Linked DNA regions of Homo sapiens: region 1 is linked to region 2. The links come from fine-mapping of genetic effects on gene expression. A gene starts in region 2. The other region holds a variant in brackets. All regions are shown on one strand. Distances are from middle to middle. Region 1 overlaps TEX264 (testis expressed 264, ER-phagy receptor). Region 2 holds the start of TEX264 (testis expressed 264, ER-phagy receptor).

What was found. PIP is the estimated chance that this variant, and not a neighbour inherited with it, causes the effect.
Region 1: its variant is the best candidate, but not a certain one, in a credible set for the expression of TEX264 in tibial artery (GTEx, PIP 0.65).

What each region holds. Positions count from the first base shown.
Region 1 is chr3:51,699,419-51,704,782 of GRCh38, forward strand. TEX264 (testis expressed 264, ER-phagy receptor) reads left to right here. Exons shown (of 5, transcript NM_015926.6): 4 at 1-156; 5 at 4,306-4,905. The coding sequence ends at 4,598. Among named protein-coding and RNA genes, the nearest start is that of GRM2, 5.0 kb to the right of the region's middle. RefSeq lists an enhancer at 4,522-5,364. The variant T/C (reference allele first, on the strand shown) is at 2,910.
Region 2 is chr3:51,668,887-51,674,250 of GRCh38, forward strand. TEX264 (testis expressed 264, ER-phagy receptor) reads left to right here and starts at 2,366. Exons shown (of 5, transcript NM_015926.6): 1 at 2,366-2,402. LOC124906237 (a long non-coding RNA gene) reads right to left here and starts at 2,219. Exons shown (of 2, transcript XR_007095907.1): 1 at 1,763-2,219; 2 at 1-770. RefSeq lists a silencer at 2,102-2,531.

The DNA of each region.
Region 1 (5,364 bases), 31 kb after region 2:
GTGCCTATCCTCGGCTGGAGATCTACCAGGAAGACCAGATCCATTTCATGTGCCCACTGGCACGGCAGGGAGACTTCTATGTGCCTGAGATGAAGGAGACAGAGTGGAAATGGCGGGGGCTTGTGGAGGCCATTGACACCCAGGTGGATGGCACAGGTACAGAAGGTGGGGTATGAGGATGGGGCCCTCCTGGAGCTCCTCTCTTCTGGACTCCAGGGGCTTGGTTGAGGAGGCTCCTCCCTCTCTGGGTTGGCACTGTGGGTGTCAGGCTATGCTTGGCAGAGGGAGGAAGGAGACCCACCTACCTGAGGACCCACATGTGGAGTTGCCTGTTCCCAGACACATGGATCTACATAGATGTGGATTCACACACATTACCTCCTGGCAACACAGATACAAAGACCCTGCCTGGATTCCCTCCAGATGCAGCAGGAGTACCCTTGGAAACAAAGATCACAGACAGCTCGATGTTCATGGGAGGGGGCTGAGGCTGCTCAGGAAAGGAGTCCCTTGGGTGGGGCTCAGCAGGAAGTAAGATTGGCATAGATCTGGAAGGTAAGGAGGGGAGCAAAGTGTTCTCTTGTCCCTCAGTACGGGCCCCACCCAGAGCCAGCTGCTTTCTCCCTGCCAGGGAACAACCAGGGAGCATGCAGAGGGGAGCCAGGAGATCAGTCACCTGTGCCTTTCTCCAGGGCCAGCCCACACTCCTGCTGGCAGCCTCAAGGCCCCAGGTCCAGGCTGGAAGGCTGCTTGCCTGCCCACCCCTCTGCAATGATCTGTGACCCCGGGCTGTCTCAGGCACAAGGGGGTCTGCTGGGTTACATCCCAGATGGTCCCAGGGGGCCTTATCCTTGGCCAACCTGGTGGAGTTTGTGACTTCTAGGAGTGGTACAGGGCTGTGGGGAGAGGAACTGTCCCTCCTCTCCTCCTTCTTTAGCAGATGCTCTGCCCATCCAGTCTTCAACAGCCAAGGTCACCCTAGGGAGACGTGTCAGCTAGGGCTGGGTAGGAGGGTATTGGGAGCAGTCTCTACTCCCTAGGGGCCTGTGTCCAACACAGTTAACTTCATCTGCCACTTAATTACCTCCATGGGGTACAGCTCCCTTCTGCCTGGTAGTGCCCGGCAGACACTCTTCAGTGCCCCTACTGTGGGCACAGGACATGGCACAAGGTCAGCAGGCCCAGGCAGCCTCCAGGGCAGGAAGACAGAGTGCCTTCACTTTACTGTGACCTCCCTCTGCTGCCTGCCTCCCCCTCCTTGACCCACCCACCCAGCTTCCTTCCCTCCCAAACACTGCCTGTCAGGGTCATTGAAGGACTGCTTGGCACCCACTACAGCTGGCTGTAGTGGCAGCTCCCACATTCCCCAGCTCCTCAGCCTGTTTTCCTCCCCTCCAGCCCGCCCACCCACTCCCTGGTGTTGGGGCCAAGGGGTCTGCCCACCTCTCACAGGGCCTGTCCTGACACCCCAGCGGGACTCGGTGTTTGCCCACCAGGTGCATGCCACTGACACAGCAGTTGGTGGTGGGTGCATGCAGGATGTCTGACTGCCCAAGGCTTGGCCTGTCCCTGCCCGCCTCCCTGCTGTGGCCCTAGCTTAGGCCGGGAGGTGAAAGGGGGTGATTAGCTGCCTTGTGCCTGTTATTACATTGATGTATTATTTAGCTTCAGAGAGGCGATGAATATTTGATCGTCTTGCACTGGCTGTGGGCAGAGCGAGAGGGAGGGATTTGGGTGAAGGGGGTGGGCTTCAAGTCCCCTGCCCCAGTAGTCGTGGGGATTTAGGTAGGGCCCTGCCTTGCCTGGTATCTTCTGCCCAGGGATGCAGGCATGGGACTCTGGGACCTCCTCCTGTGTAGATCTTGGTGGGGGTATAGGGATGCTACTTCCCCGTATTGCATTCCTTTTTTTTTTTTCTTCTGCGGCAAGGTCTGGCTCTATCGCCCAGGCTGGAGTGGTGCAGTGGCAAGATCTCGGCTCACTGTAACCTTTCCCTCCCAGGCTTAAGCTGTCCTCCCACCTCAGCCTCCTGAGTAGCTGTGACAAGAGGCGTGTACCACCATGCTTGGCTAGTTTTTGTATTTTTTATAGAGATGGTGTTTCGCCATATTGCCCAGGCTGGCCTTGAACTTGTTAGCTCAAGTGATCCTGCCTCAGCCTCCCAAAGTGTTGGGATTCTAGGGATGAGCCACCATGCCCAGCTGGATTCCTTTTTTTTGTTTGTTTGTTTTTAAAGACAGTTTTCCTTTTTTGCCCAGGCTGGAGTGAAATGGCATGATCTTGGCTCACTGCAACCTCCACCTCGTGGGTTCAAGCGATTCTCCTGCCTCAGCTTCCTGAGTAGCTGGGATTACAGGTGCCTGCCACCATGCCCGGCTAATTTTTGTATTTTTAGTAGAGATGGGGTTTTGCCATGTTGGCCAGGCTGGTCTGGAACTCCTGACCTCATGTGATCCACCTGCCTCAGCTTCCCAAAGTGCTGGGATTACAGGCGTGAGCCACCGTGCCTGGCCTCCAGCTGAATTCCTTTGCTTGAAGTGTATATATGTCTCCAGGGGCTGTCTTCATTTCAGCAGGCTGTCCTGGCCTGAAGGAGGCACCCCTAGGCTCCTTCCTCTGAACATTCCTAGCCTAGGAGCTGGGTGGTAGGAGGTAGCATGCTGGGAAGCAGGCACATTCCTATACCTGGGGTCCCAAGAGAGCCATTGGGTGGGTGGGCAGACAGAACATACAGTTTAATAGGGCCAGGGAGAAACTGTCTCCCTCCTTTGCTCTTTTCAGGCCTGCGGTCCCTGGGGCACTGATCATTATTTAAGGAGCAGTGAGGGCCTGGCATCCTGTCCCCTGGTCAGAAGAAACTACCCAAAACTTAAAGCTCCCCCAGCTCCCTGACCACCTCATTCACAGGC[T/C]TCTGTCCTGGGAGCCACACCTGGGGCCTCAGCAAGAGGAGGGCCCTGGGCCAGCAGCCTGGGCTTCTAGGGCTCACCTCACCTCTGCCAGTAGCGCCCAGAGGGCATATTCTGGGGGCTGAGTGGGTGGTGGGGGTAGGGAGAGACCCCAAATTCCCCCCTCTCCTAATTCTCCCACCCCCAACCTAGGCCCCATTTGAGGCTCAAGGAAAGCCCCAGGCTGAGTCCAGGCGCCAAGCAGACCCCAGCTGCACCTGGCTTGGCTCCAACACCATGGAGACAGTGGCTGGGGAAGCTGGCTAACCCCTCACCTTCTGTGATGTTTGACAGCTGACCCTCTCCCCATCATACAGGAAGGGTAGCAGATCCACTTTCTCCCAGTCTGGATTCCTGCACACAGCGAGCCTGAGCCATGTGTTCCTCCTTGCCACCCCAGCCTGCATTCAGTGCCTCTGATCCAGGGAGATGAACCCAGGGGTTGCTCCTGGACAGGGCAGATGAAGGGGCTGCTTGCTTGGAGGATGTATTGGGGGTGGAAGGAGCAGGTTAGAAGGAGTTTGGGCCATCAACCTGGCTCAGCACTGGTTTGGGGCACCCCAACCACCAGCAGAGTGCTCTCATCATCCCCTTTTGCTATCTTGTGGCTCAGGAAGCACCAGTCATTGGGGGTGGGGTGGGTAAGGGTTTCTCAGGGTCGACCCAGGCATAGGGAGAGAAAACCCTTAACATGTTTCATCCCAGCACCCTCCTCCTTGCAGCTGGTTGAGTATTTCTCAGGCCTTCTCCATCCTCCTCGTACTTCAGCTCCCTCCTCAACTGGGACTTGGTGTGTACCAGAGGCAGGGGCCTGCTGACTCCCTGGATGCTGCTCCTGGGAGCCCTGCACGGGGGAGGGCTGCAGAGGGGCCTCCTGCTGCATTCTGCAGTCCTCGTGCCCTGTGGGTGATGTTCTGTAGCTGGCCCTGGACACATCTCTTTCCAAGCTTGAAGTGGGGGTGGGGGAAGGTGGAGAGGACACTACTTGTGTCTCTTTGTTCTACCTCAGCTCCTCACCTCAGGGCTGAGTGGCCCTTAATAAATGTGGGGGGAGGGCAGCAGGCTTTGTGGAAGTGCAGGGAGCTGAGGCTAATTTAGAGTGGGGAGAAGAGTGCACAGCTGCCTCCTCCCACCCTCTCTCCCTCCCTCCCTCCTTCCCTCCCTCCCTTCCTCCCAGCTCTTTCCCTCTGCCCTGTCTGTGCAGCCCCAGTCAGGGTAGAGGGCAGAGGGCAGCTGGAGCAAGCCCCCTGAGCCCGGGAGGCTGCATTATTCATGAGTGCACTGCGTGCTGAGTTGCCTCTCCCTGGAGGAGGGGGTGGGGTGGTCCTAGCTAACCTGTGCTCCCTTTTCCTGGTCATAGGAGCTGACACAATGAGTGACACGAGTTCTGTAAGCTTGGAAGTGAGCCCTGGCAGCCGGGAGACTTCAGCTGCCACACTGTCACCTGGGGCGAGCAGCCGTGGCTGGGATGACGGTGACACCCGCAGCGAGCACAGCTACAGCGAGTCAGGTGCCAGCGGCTCCTCTTTTGAGGAGCTGGACTTGGAGGGCGAGGGGCCCTTAGGGGAGTCACGGCTGGACCCTGGGACTGAGCCCCTGGGGACTACCAAGTGGCTCTGGGAGCCCACTGCCCCTGAGAAGGGCAAGGAGTAACCCATGGCCTGCACCCTCCTGCAGTGCAGTTGCTGAGGAACTGAGCAGACTCTCCAGCAGACTCTCCAGCCCTCTTCCTCCTTCCTCTGGGGGAGGAGGGGTTCCTGAGGGACCTGACTTCCCCTGCTCCAGGCCTCTTGCTAAGCCTTCTCCTCACTGCCCTTTAGGCTCCCAGGGCCAGAGGAGCCAGGGACTATTTTCTGCACCAGCCCCCAGGGCTGCCACCCCTGTTGTGTCTTTTTTTCAGACTCACAGTGGAGCTTCCAGGACCCAGAATAAAGCCAATGATTTACTTGTTTCACCTGGATTTGGGTTGTGTATTTGTTTGTTCTGCCTTGGTTGGGGGCGGTGGGGGGATGGCTGTACAGATAGGCTGGGAGTGGGAAGGAGCCTCCCCTCCCCAGGACAAAGAATGGAAGGAACATGGCAGGTACCCTGGGGTTGGGGGAGGAGGGGAGTTAGAGATCCTCCACGTCCTGCTCTGTGACCCCAGTGGCCAGCTGCCCCTCCATTGCAGCTGCCAGAGAGCAAGCAGAGCCTGGCTTGGGTGAGAGCTGAGTATGGGGTGCCCTTCAGGGCTCAGGAATGGGGAGCTCACAGCCTGTCTTCATCTGCCTCCAAGGGATGCCTTTGTGTCTGTGACTAGTGTGCCTGCACGCTGGTACTTCCCCAGTAGGCGAGGCTCCCCCACTGTGCCTGCCAGTGGCTGTGTACCTGTGTGTGTGCATGTGCACCCACGCTCATGCATTTGGCTCTGTGTAACCAC
Region 2 (5,364 bases):
AACAGCAAGCTGACTTCAGAGTGGCTTGAAGCTAGCTGGTCCTCAGCCAAGGCAAGTCCTGCAGGGGCAGCCCTGACTAGACAGTGAGTGGCTGGGGATTGGGCACAATGCCTTCAGAGGGTGGGAGACAGTGTGTCTGTGAGTGGCTGGTGGCAGCGAAAACATTCTTATTGCATGTGTATTCTCTGTCATCCATGTTGGGGAATCTAGCCACTGGCCCACAGAGTTAAACAGAGCTTTGGAGTGTGAGAGGTGGGGGAAAGAAGGGACAGTCTACTCCAGCTTCCTGTTTAATTTCTTCAAGGGGAGGGGCCCTGGGGAAACAATTTTCTGGAAATTTACAAAGAAGGATAGAGAAAGAATCTCTGTAGTGATTCCTTGGACAGAGGAAGGCAAGAGGAGATGAAGGCCAAGTCTGGACTCATGATAGGGGAATCTGTGCTATTGGGAGATAAGATTGGGAGTGGAGGATGGTTGCAGCACATGGCTGGGCGAACAGGTTTCCTCAGACCTGTTACAAGGGGTTGGAATGAAGAAAGTGCCTTGTAGAGTAGGCTGCTGCCTCCTGGTGGCCAGCCGCTGCCTTGCAGGGATCCTGCCAAGGGACCTCACTTGGCACTGTTGGAAGCAGCCTGAGGTGAAGCTGGGCAGGCTGATGTCATGGCCTGCAGCCCCAGTCACCAGCGGACTCTCCTCCCACAAAAGAGGTGCTGAAGCTCCTGAGGCACATGTTGAACTCTGATGTGGGGCTCTAGAGTTCCCCAATCAGGCTAAGGGAAGTGAGCAGAGAGAACAAGATAAAGAATGGGCACTTCCTTATAATGGTTTCCTGGGAAAAGCTCACCACCTTCTGAGAAGCAGGAGAAATGACCACGCAGACCCTGCAGGCAGAGGCTGTCAGTCTCTGAGCCCGGGCCATGGCTGCTCCTTGTGTCAAAGGAAATGCTACCAAGTGTGTAGCCCGCCTGCCTGGGGCACCTAAGCTGAGGGTTTGACCATGTGCTTGATGTTCATAGGTAAAACAACTGCTGCGACCTGCACTGGCCCAGCCCGGAGTGCCTGTGAGGGGCCAGCTGCCTGTTCTGCCAGTTTGCCTAGAGGGCTGGGACAGGCTTGGCCCTGTGGATAAGGTTCAAACTCCCCTGCCTGCGGAAGGAAGAATGTGAAGCAGAGGGAAAGGAAGCTGGGATTTTGACTGTCTCTGTGTGCCCAGCCTGCTCTTTGCTGGTGCAGTAGTGGGATCCACAAGGTGAACCACCCTGTGACTGCTGACTTTTCCCACCACCACCTTCGTGGTGTTCCCATCTGCTGGATCCCCCTCCCAAACATCAGTCCTTGTCAGGATACCAAAGTAGCTCTTGGCCTCGCCGGTCTTGTAGCCAAGCTTATGAGCATAGTTGTCACCTTCCCCACCTCCCACCAAAAGTCCGGGATTTTCACGAGGGGAGCGTTTTATCTTTGGGCCCCTAGAAGAGTGCTTTGTAGTTTGTAGGTCCTCAGAAATTTGAGGTGAAGATTGAACCAATCATCAAGGAGCTTACACTTGACGTGGGAATCACGTAAGTTACCGCTAAACCACAAAGGTAGACCAGCCTCCCACAGCCACAACCTGGGCACTGAGGGAGGAGCCTGGAAGAAGGGCATTCCCATGGAACGTGAACTCCAGGAGGGCAGAACCTTGGTTTTGTTCACTCTATCCCCAGCCCCTAGAACTGTCCTGGCAAGGAGTAATAATAAGTGTTGGATGGATGAATATACTCACGGAAGTGGGAATGGGTGGGTGGAGGCAGGAAGCAGATATTTGCGCTATGCAGAAGTTGGATCCACCAGTTTCTTCCGCGAGCCCAGACTGGGCTTCAGCTTCCTCACCTATGCCTTTCTTGGTTCCCAAGTCTGTTGCGAAGCCACAGTGAGAGAAAGTGGCAGGACTAAAGGTGGTACAAATGCCAGAGGCTGATACTGCTGTGCTGCGCCTCCCTAGGCTGTACAAATTCTCCTCAGCCCCAGCTCCCTGGTCCCCAGCCTGGCCCTCTACTGCGGGCCACTGGGCTGCCTCCCGTACCCGAGCCTGGGCCAGGCTGTCACTGTGGTGCTCCTGCCAACCCAGATGCCCTGGGGTGTTGCTAAATCAACCTCAGCAACCGGATAGTTTGTTGGAGGCGGGAAGGTACGCCGTGGGTTCCGCCGCAGCCAGCGCTGGGGCTAGGCACACGCCCGTTGCCATGGAGACGGGGCGGGGCAGGCCTCCGCCCTCCGGGTCCCGCGCGCACGCGCCCACGGCCACGGCCATGTCCCGCCGCGAGAGGGGGCGGAGCGAGCGTGCGCGGCGGGCGCGCGCAGGCTCCGTAACCGAACCCTGAGCCGCCTGCGCGGATCGGCGTCCGCAGCGGGCGGCTGCTGAGGTGAGGGCCGGGCCAGAGGAGAGGCATACCCACTGGGGCGTAGGTCTGGGACTCCCCCTGTCCGCCCTGGCGCGACCTCAGGACTCTCCGTGTCCCCTCCGTGACCCCCGCGGCCCGGGCCGCTCTTTGCATCTTGTCTTGCCCACAGCTGGCCTCGGCCAGGTCCGAGGGCCTGGATGCGACCTTGGGGCAGCCCCTACTCTTCCGGGCAGCCCACTTCCGCGGCCACCGGTGCAGGGCATGCCCCGGGGCCGTGGAGGTGAGGGAAAGAGGCGCGAGTCGCGTTTTAACTCCGCCCCCGTCCCCCAAGGCCGCGCCTCGCAGCCTGGGCTGCAAACTTTAGCGTCCTTTAAGTTACAGACGTGCGTGGGGCTCCGTGAGGAGGTGGGCGAAGAGAAAGGCTCTGAGTAAATAGGCAAGGCCCGGGGTGAGCAGGGGCTGGAATCCGAAAGTGGGAGGCGGCGGCCCCCCACCCTCCATAGTCCTTCCGCCCTCTGCTAGCACCGAAGTTTAGCCCAGGACGGGGGCCGTTTAAGGGCCCGGCCCTCCGCCGCCGCGCACGTGAGCGGCACCAGGAAGCTGGCTGGGCGCAGCCTTCCCTGAGGCTCGCTGGCACCGGCCGCACGCGTCCATCCCGGGCCTCTGAGCGGAGGGGGAGCCGAGGCTAGAGGGAGGGCGCAGTCTGCCCAAGGTCAGCGGCAGCGGCAGTTTCTGGGCGCCAAGTGTGATTGGAGTACTCCAGGAAGAGGGGCGTGACCAGAGCTCTAGCGAAGAGACCTGACATTGTAAAGCTAGGTTTGGCTTCTGATTTCCACAGGGGGTTTGAGAATGGGACGAGGGTGCTTTAGAGGGACCGGTAGGCTTTCCCTGAGGACGGTAATCAGGGCATGATGGTTGGCTCAGTGGTTATTTCCTGGGCAGGGGTGACTGTTCTTTCAGCTCCCAGCACTGGAGCGCTCGGCCCCTGCCGCACTGGATGCCAGCAGTTACTAAAAGTGAGCCTGGCATTTCAGGTGAGCTCCCAGACCTTCTTCCTTTTCTCTTGAATATAGGGGAAATTCACGTTACCTCTCCACGTGCCGACCAAGGCTCTGAGACCCCCAGGTGGGTTTTCTTCCCCCCCGCCGTTTTCTGAGCAGTTTGGGAAGTGAGAGGAAGAGAAAGGTAGATACTAAGTTTCCTTGAGGAGACAGGAAGTGTTCAGCTGAGATGGCAGATCAGGGTGAGGGCTTGTCATTCCCAAGGCAAGTGGGGGCCTAGATGCTGAGAGTTTTCCAGCTTTGGGCTCAGAGATGTCCAACAAGGATTTAATGCTTCAGGCGTTTTGGAAGCCAGTCACCAGAGAGGAGAGAGAAAGTGGAAATGAGGGGCTGGAATCAGACTGTCTGGGCTTGTGTTGCCTGCATTTTGGTCCACGTGGCTCTGTTTAATACCTGTGTTACCTTGGGCAAGTCTCTTAACCTCTAACTACTTGAACCTTTAGCCTTACCTACCTCTTTGGATTGCTTTGAGGGTGAATGAAGTAGCTGTGTTTCAACATTTAGACAGTGCCTGGCGTATAGTAAGCATTCAGTGGAAGATTTCTCATCATTATCAAAGAAAATTGGAATGAAAGTTACTGGAGACAAGATGAGTAGGACAGGCAGAAAAGAGAGAGATACTGATGGGTAGAAGCACAGATGGGTGAGACTAGTGGGCAACACCTCAATTTCTTGACACCGAAAGTTTAGAAATTTACTTTGCCTCTTTGTGAGCAAATACTGTGTGCTCATTGACTCCAAAGACAATTTTTTTTTAGCGTAAAATCAACACCCAGCACCCACAGGGAAGAAATAATTCCACAGAGCTAAGTATTCCACAAAGTTGCAGCGTGGCCTTTTTAGCTTCAAAACCTTTTAAATGTTAAATATTACTTTTAAATAATTGGGGTGGGAATGTCCCCCCAGTGGGTCACATGGCTCCCTTCCTCTTTAAACAGTCTTCTCTGGGCTGTGATTTTTCCCCCCCGCCAGGCAACTCAGGTCAAGCCCTCTGTGTAAGAGGGTTAGGCCTCTGGCCCCAAGCTGCCTGGAGAACTAGGCAGCCTGCCTTGAATAGCTCACAGACTGGCCTCTGTGTTATGTTCCTGGGACTGCTCTTGAACAGCTTCTTTTCCTCTTAGGGATAATTGTTACTTCCTCCTGCTGTGCGACTCCCCTTTTAGCAGCCTTTTCCTCTTACTACTCACTGTTTCTTCTGTGGGCTGGAAAATTGGGATGAAGCTTGTTAACATTGGTGGTTCAAGTCTGGGAAGCTTAGTGTTGGACTTTGTTCTGCCTGCTCAGGCCGCTTTGCTCTGGTCTTTCCTCTGGTTCTGGATGGGTAAGCTTGCTGGATAGCAAGGTCCCTGCAGGCCAGATGTACTTAGAAAAGGAGAGTTTCTTATGAAATTCTCTTCCTGAGGCACATTTTTCCTCACAAGTTTTTGTTCCTTATGGTTTCCCTGTCGTTAGTAAGTGTTTGGACCCTAGCATTTGCCAGTCCTCCCTCTGGCAGTCGTCCCTGAGGCTTGGGGAGGCTGGGCTGGTGGCGTGGCTCAGCTGTGGGGAGGAAGAGGTAATGTGGAGGAAAGGCAGGCTGGCTGGTATCTGGTACATCTTCGGGGAGACTTGTCAGGGCCCGGAGTATGTCTCTGGCTGAATCACTCCTGTGCCCCTCTGTGACTCAGTTTCCCCAGGTGTGACCAGGGCTGCCAGCTGACAGTTTGAGCTGCTCTGAGATCCTCACCAACTGCGATTAAGAAATAAAGAGGCTTGTGGCTTCAGTCATCCTTGTAGCTCCCTTCCAGGTCACTCTGTGTGTAAACACCTCTGGCCCCTCCCCTTTCTGGGTCAGAGCACCCAAGGCAGGTCTGAGGAGGTTGGGCCAGAACTGGTTGGCGGGCAAGTGGGCACATTGTCAGAGTAGGCTACCAGCCTCCTCT